2 linked regions of the Homo sapiens genome follow. The protein of the gene in region 2 interacts with the protein of the main gene of each other region in a pairwise test. Each region holds a gene or a part of one and is shown on either strand. Other genes may lie near its edges.

Region 1 (7,024 bases), on a different chromosome or scaffold from region 2:
CGATGGCACGATCTTGGCTCACCGCAACCTCTACCTCCCAGGTTCAACCGATTCTGCTGCCTCAGCCTCCTAGTAGCTGGGATTACAGGCATCTGCCACCATGCCCGGCTAATTTTGTATTTTTAGTAGAGGCAGGGTTTCTCCATGTTGGTCAGGCTGGTCTCGAACTCCTGACCTCAGATGATCCGCCCGCCTCGGCTTCCCAAAGTGCTGGGATTACAGGTATGAGCCACCACGCCTGGCCATGAACATAATTTCTTTACATTCATTTTAGCACTGAAGTGCCAGGTAACACCCACCCCCGCTGCCCTTCAGTGAAACAGGTGTTTTAGTCCTGTACCTTCGTAGCTGCTGTCAGTACTTCTTGCTAAGGAATTGCCTAGGGTTGTGAAACTGCCCTTAAGAGAATGGTTTTCAGCCTTGGCTGCATGTTGGACTCACCAGGCAAGTCTTTAAAAATACTGATTCCTGGGGTCCCAGGCCCAGAGGTTCTGATTTCACTGGTCTGTGGTGCAGCCTGGGCACCAGAATTTTTTTGAAAACTCCCTGGGTAATTCTGATATACAGGCCAGGTTAAAAGCTTAAGACCTGCTCAGTCAAAGGGAAGATGTCTTCTTCCTGCCTACACTGTTTCAGCTGGGACATCACCCTCCACAAATTCCTGAGTGGAAAGGGCTGTGGTTACTTTGGAAGCCTGTGGCCCTAGAGTTCTGGAACTAATGCCTCGGCAACATACTCCCCAAGACCTGTCTACATGTTTTTCTGTTGTGGGATATGTAGTATTTTGCATCCCACTTTGGTTTTACCCAATCCTTTAAGAAAGGGTCAGCTAAGTTTTGGCCAAGTGTTGTGGTCCATGCCTATAATCCCAGCAGTTTGGGAGGCCGAGGCCAGCAGGTCACCTGAGGACAGGAGTTTGAGACCAGCCTGGCCAACATGGTAAAACCCCGTCTCTACTAAAAATACAAAAATTAGCCGGGCATGGTGGTGCACGCCTGTGGTCCAAGCTACTCGAGAGGCTGAGGCAGGAGAATCGTTTGAACCTGGGAGGTGGAGGTTGCAGTGAGCAGATATCACGCCACTGTACCACTGCACTCCAGCCTGGGTGACCGAGCAAGACTCCATCTCAAAAAAAAAAAGAAAGGGTCACCTGAGTTTTTAACAATCTGATTCTTCAATGAATCCCTTTCCTTTTTACCACAGATTGGCCTGTAACTTTTGCTGGACTTTGGTGCTCTCCTTGATTTTATTTGCTCTTTGCCTTTGGGCCCCAACTTTTATTTCCCACCTTAACTCCTCTGCACGTTTTCTTGTGTGAAATCTCCCAATATGAGGAGAAAGTCAGTGATTTCTGGGTCTATCAAAAGCAGCCATTGTTCAAAGTGTTTTTGTCCTTCTTCACCTCCAGGATGAAGAATCCATCCAGAAGATAAATCCTTCCAAGCCTGGACTCCATCTACCTGGCTCTCCTTTAGTATGTTTCATCTTCCTGTACTTTCTCATAAATTTCAGAAATTTATTCTGCATGCCTCCTCAGGGCAAAGGCATCTCTACCTACAACTGTCACCTTGACACTCACCTAACAGTGCTTGAAGTGTCCTATACTGATCTTTCCCCTCTTAAATCTGTACACATTTTCTAGTTTTTATTTATTTTTATTTTTATTTTTATTTTTTAGACAGAGTTTCACTCTTGTTACCCAGGCTGGAGTGCGGTGGTATGATCTTGGCTCACTGCAACCTCTGCCTCTTGAGTTCAAGTGATTCTTGTGCCTCAGCCTCCCAAGTAGCTGGGATTACAAGTGCCTGCCATCACACCCTGGTAATTTTTTGTATTTTTAGTAGAGACGGGGTTTCACCATGTTGGCCAGGCTGGTCTCGAACTCCTGACCTCAGGTGATCTGCCTGCCTCAGCCTCCCAAAGTGTTGGGATTACAGGCGTGAGCCACCACACCTGGCCATTTATTTTTATTTTTTTAGAGACGGGGTCTTGATATGCTGCCCAGGCTGATCTCAAACTCCAGGGCTCAAGGGATCCTTCTGCTTCAGCCTCCCAAATCACTGGGATTACAGGCATGAGCTACCACGCTTGGCCCACATTTTCTGTTATGACTTGACAGAACCTATAAAAGCAATTGGAGAACTATTTAAAAGACAATTTCCCCAAGGGTTTATTGAATCTGAGCTCTTACAGTGGAGAGGGGGACAAGGGATGGGGGGAACATATGCCAATCTATTTTCTGAGCTCTTCACACTCTGCCTCTGTTATATTTCCTTGGAACCCAGTTACCATATCCGGTAGGGTCATAACCAACAAGGATCCCTCTTCTGCACCCTCCTTTTAAAAGCTTTAGAGACCTAAGTTCATGTTCTTTCCTGTTCCATTTCTGTCTTCCCTATACTTTAAGATCTTCCTCCAGTTAAATTAGCCTGTATTCCTTTATTTTTCTTTTATTCATTCATTGCTTCCATACTGATAGTAAGATTGAAGCATCTTCTACAAACCACTCCATTTCCTCCTAGATTTTGAGAAAACTCAATTCCTGGAAAGACAGCATACTAGGCGTAGCCCTTGGGCTTCCGAATTTGCAGTCAGTTCACTGAGTTGTTGTATACTAGGCATATGCCTTTGGCTTCTGCATTTGCAGTCAATTCACTGAGTTGTTGTATACTAGGCATACCCCCACCTCTGGCTTCTGACAGTATACTAGGCATACCCTTTTGGCTTCTGAATTTGCAGTCAATTCACTGGCCTCAATTCCAAAGTGGTGCCTTCTTTATGGAAGGGTCACCATCCATTATTTGTTCATTGGGGGAAAAAAACCCTACAGTTACTCCTCCGTGAATAAAGCCCAAAGCCAGATCTCTGAAAAGTCTGGAACTTTCAAAATGCAAGCCATGATCTGGGCTTTCATGACCTACTTGGGGACCTTAGTTGGCAGCAAAACTCCATGGGTTATACCACATGCATCCAAGTGGTATGTAAGAAGTATAACCCTTTTTCTAACAGTTTAGAAAGAACAATAATCTGGGGGGAGGGGGAAGGAGGGAGGAAAGGAACAAGGGGTGAAAAACTAACTGTTGGGTACTGTGTTCACTACCTGCTGGCGGGACCAACTGTACCCCAAACTTTAGCGTCACTCAATATACCCATGTAACAAGTCTGTACGTGTACCCCCAAATCTAAAAGTTGAAATTATATTTTTAAAAAAGAACGATAATCGTGAAGATAGCTAAATTTCCTCTCTTGACCATGAATGTAGTTTAAAACAACATAGAGAATAAGAGAATGAGGCAACTGTCTGCCTATGCCTAGCACAAAACTCCAAGCTCAGAGAATTCACCTGTGTTTGGAGTTTATTTTCTAGTCATCAGTGATTACTAAAAATAAATGACTTGTTCTTGATAGTCTAATCCCTTTCCTACCCACTCTCTTAAGCCAAAGCTGCTCTCAGTAGAGCCACCATAGGACCATGGTCTGCCTGGCTTATATCAGTTAAAAACCAGGTATCGTATTTAAAAACTTAACACCAGCCCGGCGCGGTGGCTCACGCCTGTAATCCTAGCACTTTGGGAGGCTGAAGTGGGCGGATTGCTTGAGCTCAGGAGTTCGAGACCAGCGTGGGCAACGTGGTGAAACGCCATCTCTACTGAAATACAAAAAATTAGTCAGGCGTGGTGGCAAGTGCCTGTAGTCCCAGCCACTGGGGAGGTTGAGGCACAAGAATCACTTGAAATGGGAGGCGGAGGCTGCAGTGAGCTGAGATCACGCCACTGCACTCCAGCCTGGGCGACACAGCAAGAGTCTGTCTCAAACAACAACAACAACAACAACTTACACATTCCATAATAAGAAATCAAATTCTAAAACCTGCCTGGACTGCCTCAGACACCTAGATATCCTCATGTCATTCTGGTATCCAATGCCAGTTCTCCTCTTTTCTTCAAAGACAGTGCACCAAGATTTTAGGGAGCCAGTAACAGTACCTTTTTTCCACATCCAATTTGGAGCTAATTAAGAAATAAGACAGGCCGGGCACGGTGGCTCATGTAATCCCAGCACTTTGGGAGGCCGAGGCAGGCAGATCACAAGGTCAGGAGATCGAGACCATCCTGGCTAACATGGTGAAACCCCGTCTCTACTAAAAATACAAAAAATTAGCTGGACGTGGTAGCAGGCACTTGTAGTCCCAGCTACTCAGGAGGCTGAGGCAGGAGAATGGCGTGAACCTGGGAGGCAGAGCTTGCAGTGAGCCGAGATTGCACCACTGCACTCCAGCCTGGGCAACAGAGCAAGACTCCGTCTCAAGAAAAAAAAAAAAGAAATAAGACAGAGGCCGGACACGGTGGCTCACGCCTGTGATCCCAGCACTTTGGGAGGCCGAGGCAGGAGGATCATCTGAGGTCAGGAGTTCCAGACCAGCCTGGTCAACATGGTGAAACCCCGTCTCTACTAAAAATACAAAAATTAGCCAGGTATGGTGGTGGATGCCTGTAATCCTAGCTACTCAGAAGGGTGAGGCAGGAGAACTGCTTGAACCTGGGAGACGGAGGTTGCGGTAAGCAGAGATTGCACCACTGCACTCCAGCCTAGGTGACAGAGCAAGACCCTGTCTCAAAAAGAAAAAAAAAGCAAGAAGACAAATGGAAATTAAAATGTTTGTTTTTACTGATAGCATCAACTGGAGAACAGAACCTTAGCTCTGTAGCCAAGTCTGGATAATATACAGCTGACCAAGAGCAGCTTACCAGCTAGTTGAGTGGAGACCAGAACTCCATCTTCACTACAGGAAGACAAATGTGAGAAGGTCCCAGAAAGTACTGAGCCAAGCATGTCAGTTCCTTCACTGAAACTCCTCAATATTCAAGTCCCTCTTTTTCCTCCCATAGCAGAGACTGACAGTGTTTCTCCCATACTGTTCCCTCCCCAAAAATGAATTAGAAGCCCCCTCCCCTCTGTAGGAGCAAAGGAGAGGAAGCAAATGGGAGGGGAAAGAATACAAACCTAAATAATCTGCGTAAGAGTAGGAATGACAGTTTCCAGCCAATAAGGTTATAAGGACTCTCTCAGGTTCCTCAGTCAGAGTCAAACAATATAAGCCCATGAAACATCATTACAGTCAACAAAAGCAAGAGGAAAGGTGTTCTGTTTCTTTGCAAGAGCAGCAGCCCAGCTCTCTTTCTGGCACAGTGCCAGGATTTTCAAATGGCCTCAAGGTTCAGCTGTCTTTGCTTCTGTGTGTGTATAATCTAATATGTTTTCAGAATCCCTGTGGGGAGAAAATACTTCAAAATGCTCAATTTAAAGAATTCACAAATTTACCACAAATTTTCAACCCTAAACTTTTAATGATTCCATTAAATATATTATCAACCAGCCAGACTAGAACGAAGAATCAGAAAAGCTATGGTAGTTTCCATGAAGATTAAATGACAGGCTGGGCGCAGTAGCTCACACCTCTAATCCCAGCACTTTAGGAGGCCAGAATCACTTGAGGTCAGGAGTTCAAGACCAGCCTAGCCAAGATGGTGAAACCCGGTCTCTACTAAAAATACCAAAAAAAATTAGCTGGGTGTGGTGGTGCACAACTGTAGTCCCAGCTACACAGGAGGCTGAGGCAGGAGAATCACTTGAGGCGGAGACTGCAGTAAGCTGAGATGGTGCCACCGCACTCCAGCCTGGGCAACAAAGAGAGACTCCATCTCAAAAAAAAAAAAAAAAAAAAAAAAAGATTAAATGACAGCCAGACACAAGAGAAGTATAGGGGGAGAGTGGGAAAAGAAAGTTTATGAGTATGAAAACAGACAACTAGGCCAGGTGCCATGGCTCAAGCCTGTAATCCTAGCAGTTTGGGAGGCCAAGGCAAGTGGACTGCCTGAGCTCAGGAGTTTGGGACCAGCCTGGGCAACATTGTGAAACTCCGTCTCTACTAAATACGAAGAAAAAAAAAAAAAATTAGCCGGGCATGGCAGCTACTTGGGAAGCTGAGGCAGGAGAACTGTTTGAACCCGAGAGGCAGAGGTTGCAGTGAGCTGAGATCGTGCCACTGCACTCCAGCCTGGCGACAGAGTGAGATTCCATCTCAAAAAAAAAAAAAAGAAACAGAAAACTAAATGATCTAAGTCATTCACTTTTTATTAAACTAGGTAAATAGCAAGGTAATAATAATGCCATAGACTCTTCTCGTAAGAGTCTATCTTGCTTGCCAAAACTCTAATATGTTACTACACAGTCATTCACTTTTTATTAAACTAGGTAAATAGCAATGTAATAATAAACCCATAGACTCTTCTCATAAGCGTCTACCTTGCTTGCCATAACTCTAAGTTAAATATATTATTTACACAGTTATTTTAAGGATGAACCTAGAAGTTTTAAATTCAAAAATAATTGTCTCAGATGCTACATGAATCTACAAGGACCAAGGAGCGATACTGTTCTTCCATCAATGAAAGCTTCCTCAGAGAACTCACCCACTATATGTCCAGGGTTTGTTTCAAACTCTGGACAACCTTCAGTTTGCTAAAACTCAATGTCCTGTGTTAAACGACAGGAAAAAGATGTATTAAATCTTAGCAACGGTGATATAAAATAATCGGTTTTACAGTTTAATCTTGGTTAGGTTAAACTTTCCTACATAACTAAAAGCAAAGCAGAAAAAACAGTTGATAAAAAAGCAAAATCTTTATCCTTTTTTTTTTTTGTTTTGGTTTTTTTTTTTGGAGACAGAGTCTTGCTCTGTTGCCCAGGCTGGAGTGCAGTGGCGCAATCTTGGCTCACTGCAAACTCTGCCTCCCGGGTTCACGCCATTCTCCTGCCTCAGCCTCCAGAGTAGCTGGGACTACAGGCGCCCGCCACCACATCCAGCTAATTTTTTGTATTTTTAGTAGAGACAGGGTTTCACTGTGTTAGCCAGGATGGTCTCAACCTCCTGACCTTGTGATCTGCCTGCCTCGGCCTCCCAAAGTGCTGGGACTACAGGCGTGAGCCACCGCGCCCGGCCTCTTTATCCTATTTAGAGCCA
Region 2 (7,024 bases):
CCTGCAAGTCACAGCCTAGGTTCCCTGAGTGATGTTTTCAGCAGTAAACTGCAACTTCAAAGCTAAGAGCCATCCTAATAATTTGCCATAAAAGGTAGCTTGTTAAAAATGAGTCAAAAAGGCCGGGTGCAGTGACTCACGCCTGTAATCCCAGCGCTTTGGGAAGCTGAGGCGGGCGGATCACAAGGTCAGGAGGTCGAGACCATCCTGGTTAACACGGTGAAACCCCGTGTCTACTAAAAATACAAAAAATTAGCTGGGCGTGGTGGCGGGCAGCTGTAGTCCCAGCTACTTGGGAGGCTGAGGCAGGAGAATGGCGTGAACCCGGGAGGCAGAGCTTGCAGTGAGCCGAGATTGCGCCACTGCACTCCAGTCTGGGTGACAGAGCAAGACTACATCTCAAAAAAAAAAAAAAAGGGGGCTGGGCACAGTGGCTCACGCCTGTAATCCCAGCCCTTTGGGAGGCCGAGGCAGGTGGATCACCAGGTCAGGAGATTAAGAACATCCTGGCTAACACAGTGAAACCCCGTCTCTACTAAAAATACAAAAAATTAGCCGGGTATGGTGGTGGGCGCCTGTAGTCCCAGCTACTCAGAAGGCTGAGGGAGGAGAATAGAACAGCGTGAAGCCGGTAGGCGGAGCTTGCGGTGAGCCGAGATCACGCCACTTCACTCCAGCCTGGGCGACAGAGCAAGACTCTGTCTCAAAAAAAAAAAAAAGAAAAAAAGAAAAAAAAAAGAGTCTTCTTTTTTTGTTTTTGAGACAGAGTCTCGCTCTGTCACCCAGGCTGGAGTGAAGTGGTGTGATCTCGGCTCACTGCAATCTCCGCCTCCTGGGTTCAAGCAATTGTCCTGCCTCAGCCTCCTGAGTAACTGGCATTATAGGTGAGAGCCACCACACCCAGCTAGTATTTGTATTTTTAGTAGAGACAGGGTTTCACTATGTTGGTTAGGCTGCTCTTGAACTCCTGACCTCGTGATCCGCCCACCTCGGCCTCCCAAAGTCCTGGGATTACAGGCGTGAGCCCAGCCATGATTATATCAGGGAAACAAGATGTATGTCACTTATATGTACCCGATCCAACTGTAAACATTTGTTTGAATATACTTTTATAGGAACCTTACAGATACATAGATTTGGAGTCTGAAAGATAATACAATGAAATGAAAGGTCATGTTCTCAACCCCTCTGACCAACCTGCAATGGTAGAGATTTGGCTCACTGGGATGGTAGCAGCCTTCTGGAGGTCCATCTTTATCTTTTTGGCCTGCCAGAAGAGAACAGTGAGAAAGCAGTGTTCTGAAGAGCTGAGTAGATGTCACTTAGAATCAGGTAAAGTGACATGCCAGCTACATTCCTTTGGGACACGAAGTGATCATTCTCTGAGAACCATCAAGTCCACAAAATTACTGCCATATACCTCTCCCCTACCTGACTGTCCTTGCTGTTGGTCAGGCCCTCAAAGGTCAACACACACTGCATGGAAGCATCCTGCAGCTGCTGGTACCACTGCATTGTAATGTCTTGTACCTTCACCTGGAGGTCTGAGAAATAAAAGAGAGGTTTTAGTAATAGCTAGTATTTACTGAACATGTAATATGAGGCAGGCACTGTTATAATCACTTTATGTATGTACTGACTGCTTTAACTGTCACCATAACTATGAAATAGATACTATTATTATCTCCATTTTATAGAAAAGGAAACAGGCACAAAAAGGTTAAGTGATTTGCCATGGTCACATTACTACTAAGTAGAAAAACTAAGGCTGGGTGTGGTGACCCACGCCTATAATTACAGTACTCTAGGAGGCCAAGACAGGCCCAGGAGCTTGAGACCAGCTTGCACAACATGGTGAAATCCCATCTCTACAAAAAATACACAAATTAGCCAGGCAGGGTGGCGCATGCCTGTAGTCCCAGTTACTTGGGAGGCTGAGTGGGGAGGATCACTTGAGCCTGGGAGGGTGAGGCTATAGTGAGCCATAATCATACCACTGTACTCCTCCAGCCTGGGTAACAAGAGTGAGACTCCTATCTCAAAAAAAAAACAAAAAACAAAAAACGCTGGGCGCAGTGGCTCATGCCTATAATCCCAGCACTTTGGGAGGCCAATGCTGGCAGATCACCTGAGGTCGGGAGTTCGAAACCAGCCTGACCAACATGGAGAAACCCCGTCTCCACTAAAAATACAAAAAAATTAGCCAGGTGTGGTGGTGCATGCCTGTAATCTCAGCTACTCAGGAGGCTGAGGCAGGAGAATCGCTTGAACCTGGGAGGCGGAGGTTGTAGTGAGCTGAGATTGTGCCATTGCACTCCAGCCTGGGCAACAAGAGCAAAACTCTGTCTCAAAAAAAACAAAAACAAAAACAAAACACACCAAAAAAGAAAAATTAGACTCCCAGGCTGGGTGCGGTGGCTCACACCTGTAATCCTAGCATTTTGGGAGGCCGAGGCGGGTGGATCATGAGGTCAGGAGTTTGAGACCAGCCTGGCCAACGTGGTGAAATCCCATCTTTACTAAAAATACAAAAATTAGCCAGGCACAGTGGCAGGCACCTGTAATCCCAGCTACTCGGGAGGCTGAGGCAGGAGAATTGTTTGAACCCGGGAGGCAGAGGTTGCAGAGAGCCAAGATCGCGCCACTGCAATCCAGCCTGGGCAACAAGAGCAAATCTCCATCCCCTCCCCGCAAAAAACAACAACAACAACAACAACAACAAAAACCAGACTCCCACTGATCTGGCTCCAGAGTCAGCACTCTCAAACACTATGGTACACTGATTCTTTTTCTTTTTTTGAGACGGAGTCTCACTCTGTCACCAGGTTGGAGTGCAGTGGCACCACCTCAGCTCACTGCAACCTCCAGCTCCTGGGTCAAGCAATTCTCCTGCCTTAGCCTCCCGAGTAGCTGGGACTACAGGTGCGTGCCACCATGCCCAGCTAATTTTTTTATTTTTGGTAGAGATGGGAGTTTCGGCATGTTGGCCAGGCTGGTCTCGAACTCCTGACCCCTTATACGTATTACACCAACACATATCTGTGCGCATTTATTTAAAATACTCAGCAGCAGCAATAATTGAAATAATGTATCTGCTAGAGTTATACAGAATTTCAAGTCCTCACGCAAAGTGTTGGAATCGTAAATCAGACTCTACATCAACCAAAACTGAATGAAATACATTACATAAAATTCTGGTTAACTGTCCTACAGTTTAACACAACATTCAAAACATGCTCTTGTTTCTCTTCACATTTGAAACTTACGAGTTAAAGGACCACATCCATACTGAAACCCACCTTCATTCTGTTTCCCTCCTGGGCCCTGGCTGGGAGCTGGGGGCTCTTTGTGGGCCTCTGGTCCCTGCTGCATCTGTGCCTCTTGCAGCTTTACCTGGGCCTCTTCTTCATCCTGCCTCCTCTTGTCTTCGCAGGCTCTGGTGATCTCCTGCCCCAAGTTCATCAGGAGGTCCCGCATTTCCCGCAGAGCTCGCTCAGCCTCAGCTTGACTCTCTGCTGTGGGATAGCTGCTCTGTCAGAGTGACGGAGATGGTGCTTAGTGGTCATTCCCTAGGTAAATCATACCTCATACAAGTCAATAAATTTCCTGCAATTGGAATTGTTGCACCAATGGAGTATCCACATTCAACGAATTGATACTTCTTTCCCTGTTCTCTTAAAGGTATTAATAATTCCAACTTACTGTCACATCCATAGTTTCTAAGTATAAATTGGTCTGTATTCTCAGCAACAAGGGCCAGCGTAATTTTTTAAAAAGTTTGTGACAATATGTTAGACAAAAATAATACTGTTTTATTATAATAATAATTATTTTTTGAGACAGAATCTCCATTGCCCAGGTTGGAGTGCAGTGGCAAGATCTCGGTCATTGCAACCTTTGCCTCCCAGGTTCAAGTGCTGCTCGTGCCTCAGCTTCCCAAGTAGCTGGGATTACAGGTGTGCGTCACCACACCCAGCTAATTTTTGTATTTTTAGTAGAGACTGGGTTTCACCATGTTGGCTGAAACCTACTGGTCTCGAACTCCTAGCCTCAAGTAATCCGAGAATCGCTTGAACCTGGAAGCCGGAGGTTGAAGTGAGCCATGATCACACCACTGCACTCCAGCCGGGGCAAGAGTGTGAGACCCTGTCTCAAAAAAAAAAAAAAAAAAAAAAAAAAAAAGCAAAGCAAAGAAACAGGGCAGGTACAATGGCTCGTGCCTGTAACCCCAATACTTCGGGAGGCTAAGGTGGGAGGATCACTTCAGCCCAGGAGTTCAAGACCAGCCTGGGAAACATAGTGAGATCTCTATTGCTAATTTAAAAACAAAACGAAACAAAAAAAGTTTGGCACCGTGGCTCACACCTGTAATCTCAGCAGTTTGGGAGGCCGAAGTAGGGGGATCACTTCAGCCCAGGAGTTAGAGACCAGCCTGAGCAACATGGCAAAACCCTGTCTCTACAAAAAAATACAAAAATTAGCAGGGCATGGTGGTATGCGCCTGTAGTCCCAGCTACTCAGGAGACTGAGGTGGGAGGATCACTTGAGCCCGGGAGGCAGAGGTTGCATGAGCTGAGACTGTGTTACTGCACTCCAGCCTGGGTGACAAAGGGGAACCCCATCACAAAAAAAAAAAAAAAAAAAAAAAAAGACTCCAGAATAAGCAGGTATAAAAATAAAGAAATAAATAAAAGAAACAAAATAAAATGTTAACAGTGGTTACTTCTAGGTAAAGAGATATGGAGATAACAAGTAATGTTTGGTATTTCCCCCAATAAGCAGATAGCAGGTATTACTTTTTAAGTCAGAAAACAGTTTTGCTTTTAAAGGCTTCCATTTCAAAGACAGCAAAGAGTCACTCTGAAGCCCCCCTCACCTCTGAAGAGGCCCGGATGATCCCTGAGATGAGGCTGCACAGCTGGTTGCCTCGGGTCTGGAAGGCAGCCAGGTCGACCTTAAGCAGGGCTTTGTGCTGCTCAGAGGCATCCAGCTGCTGGCTGAGCTGCAGCATCTCCTCCTGCAGAGCATAGAGGGCCCGCAGGCGGATCTGGCCTTCTTCCTTCCGAAGCCGCTCCTGTTCTGCTTGCTTCACGCGCTGCTGCTCTGCTTCCCGCAGCTTCAGGTTGAGAATCTGTAGAAAAGGGCTGAGTGACTTCTCTCTGAGGGGTTCCTGGGCTTCTTCTTTCTACAGTCCTCAAATTCTACGTGGGCTACATATTTTCACAGATGGGCTCAGAGCAGGAAGAGGACATCCCAAGGTTAGTCATACACAGGCATAATACGGCCCAGATCCTCCATGGTGGCCATCTGCCAAAACCTGGCTCTCCAGGCAGGTTACAGACAGACACCAAAACACCCACACCAATTCTGCCAGGCTCTGACCTTTGCTCTGTGACGGTGCTCAGCTTTTAGCTTCTCTTGGTGTCCCAAGGCTTCTCTGGAGCTGCATGAAAAATGGCAGGGAGGAATAGTCAGGGATACTTCCTGAAATTGTTTTTCTTTCTTTCTTTTCTCTCCCTCTCCCTGCCCTCCCTTCCCTTCCTTCCCTTTTTCTTAGAGATGGGGTCTCGTTATGTTGCCCAGGCTGCAGAGCATAGCTCACCACAGCCTCAAACTCCTGGACTCAAGCAATCCTCCTGCCTCAGCCTCTCTAGTAATTGAGACTACAGCTGTGTTCCACCACGCCCGTAAAATTGTTTTACCTCTCCTAAAAGCCTCCCTCTTTGTGTTCCTTTGGTTGTCTCTCCAAGTTTGGTCTTTTTTCCAGGTTATAAAATTCTCTGCCTATTTTACCTTGATATTTAAGGACTCAGAAGTTGTTCAACTCTTTCCCTTTGGAATTCCTCTTGGGAAAGAGTTCCAGTTGAACACATCAACATTCCCAGTCATAATTCAGGGAGACTCACCTCTTCTCCATTACTTCCCGCAAGTCCTGGAATTCTTTATGCTGCTTCAGTTCCTTCCATTCATCAAACCGCTTCAGTTGTTCAGATGCCATCTCCGAGAGGGCTTGCACCTTCCTCTCCTGCTCCTCCTGCCATAGCCTCAGGCCCTCCTGAAAAGGTTTTTTTTTTTTTTTTTTTTTTTAAGATGGAATCTCTCTCTGTCGCCAGGCTGGAGTGCAGCTCACTGCAACCTCCAACTCCCGGGTTCAAGCGATTCTTGTCTCAGCTCCCCAAGTAGCTGGGACTACAGGTGCCTGCCACCATGCCCAGCTAATTTTTGTATTTTTAGTAGAGACGGTTTCACCATGTTGGCCAGGATGGTCTTGATCTCTTGACCTTGTGATCCGCCTGCCTTGGCCTCCCTAAGTGCTCGGATTACAGGCGTGAGCCACCTCGCCCGGCCGAAAATGTTTAACACCTGCTCTCTGGAGCGCCTTCAACACCTTGATCATTTACCCCTGCGGGCTACCTGCCCATCGGCCCCTAACACCATCAGAGATACTTAAGGGCATGGAATCAGAACCTTTGCAGGAATATCCTTTCTCCTTTTGCTTGATCTTTAAGCTCAGCTGTTTTGGAAAGCTCTTCCAATTGCCCCATATGGTTTATGTCACTCCAGTACAAGTTGGGAACGGACAGGAATTTAGCAACATGACATCAAACAGCCATGCACTATTAAGCTTCCATCCTGTGTAGTCTTATGGGGTTCATTGGTAATTTACGGAAATCCTCATTCTAATTCCATAAACAAGCTATACACATTCCTATCTCACTGATTTTGTTAATCTCTGCCTCGAAGATTTTCTCCTGGACCTCCACTAAGGAAAGTCCTTTTCCTTAGTACCTAAGGGTATCAGATATTGAATTTATCATTTCATGAGAGTACTCACATATGGTTAAAGGCAATTTGACATTTTAACTATCAAAATTTGAAGTGTCTATATCCTTTGACACTTGTTCCATTTCAGGAATTTATCCTGAGGAAATGCTTGTATGTGTGTGCAAAGATATATGTACAAGAATGCTCACTGGAGCCCTGTTGATAACAGCAATACATTTAAAACCACTTAACTGGGGAA

Evidence for each region. Proteins that work in one complex are often made in the same cells at the same time.
Region 1: the proteins of GLE1 (region 2) and RNF34 interact in binary tests that used the Homo sapiens proteins (3 or more experiments, as listed by UniProt).

The regions. Positions count from the first base shown.
Region 1 is NC_000012.12:121,403,094-121,410,117, reverse strand, and holds part of RNF34 (E3 ubiquitin-protein ligase RNF34), read right to left. Parts: intron 5,270-7,024; exon of another isoform or gene 5,005-5,269; intron 1,658-5,004; exon of another isoform or gene 1,643-1,657; coding exon of another isoform or gene 1,409-1,642; intron 1-1,408. Other genes in the region: KDM2B (lysine-specific demethylase 2B), read left to right, coding at 1,409-1,642. UniProt on the Homo sapiens protein: E3 ubiquitin-protein ligase that regulates several biological processes through the ubiquitin-mediated proteasomal degradation of various target proteins.
Region 2 is NC_000009.12:128,521,699-128,528,722, reverse strand, and holds part of GLE1 (mRNA export factor GLE1), read right to left. Parts: intron 6,056-7,024; coding exon 5,907-6,055; intron 5,444-5,906; coding exon 5,383-5,443; intron 5,134-5,382; exon of another isoform or gene 5,132-5,133; coding exon 4,877-5,131; intron 3,532-4,876; coding exon 3,300-3,531; intron 1,545-3,299; coding exon 1,432-1,544; intron 1,268-1,431; coding exon 1,198-1,267; intron 113-1,197; exon of another isoform or gene 1-112. UniProt on the Homo sapiens protein: Required for the export of mRNAs containing poly(A) tails from the nucleus into the cytoplasm. May be involved in the terminal step of the mRNA transport through the nuclear pore complex (NPC).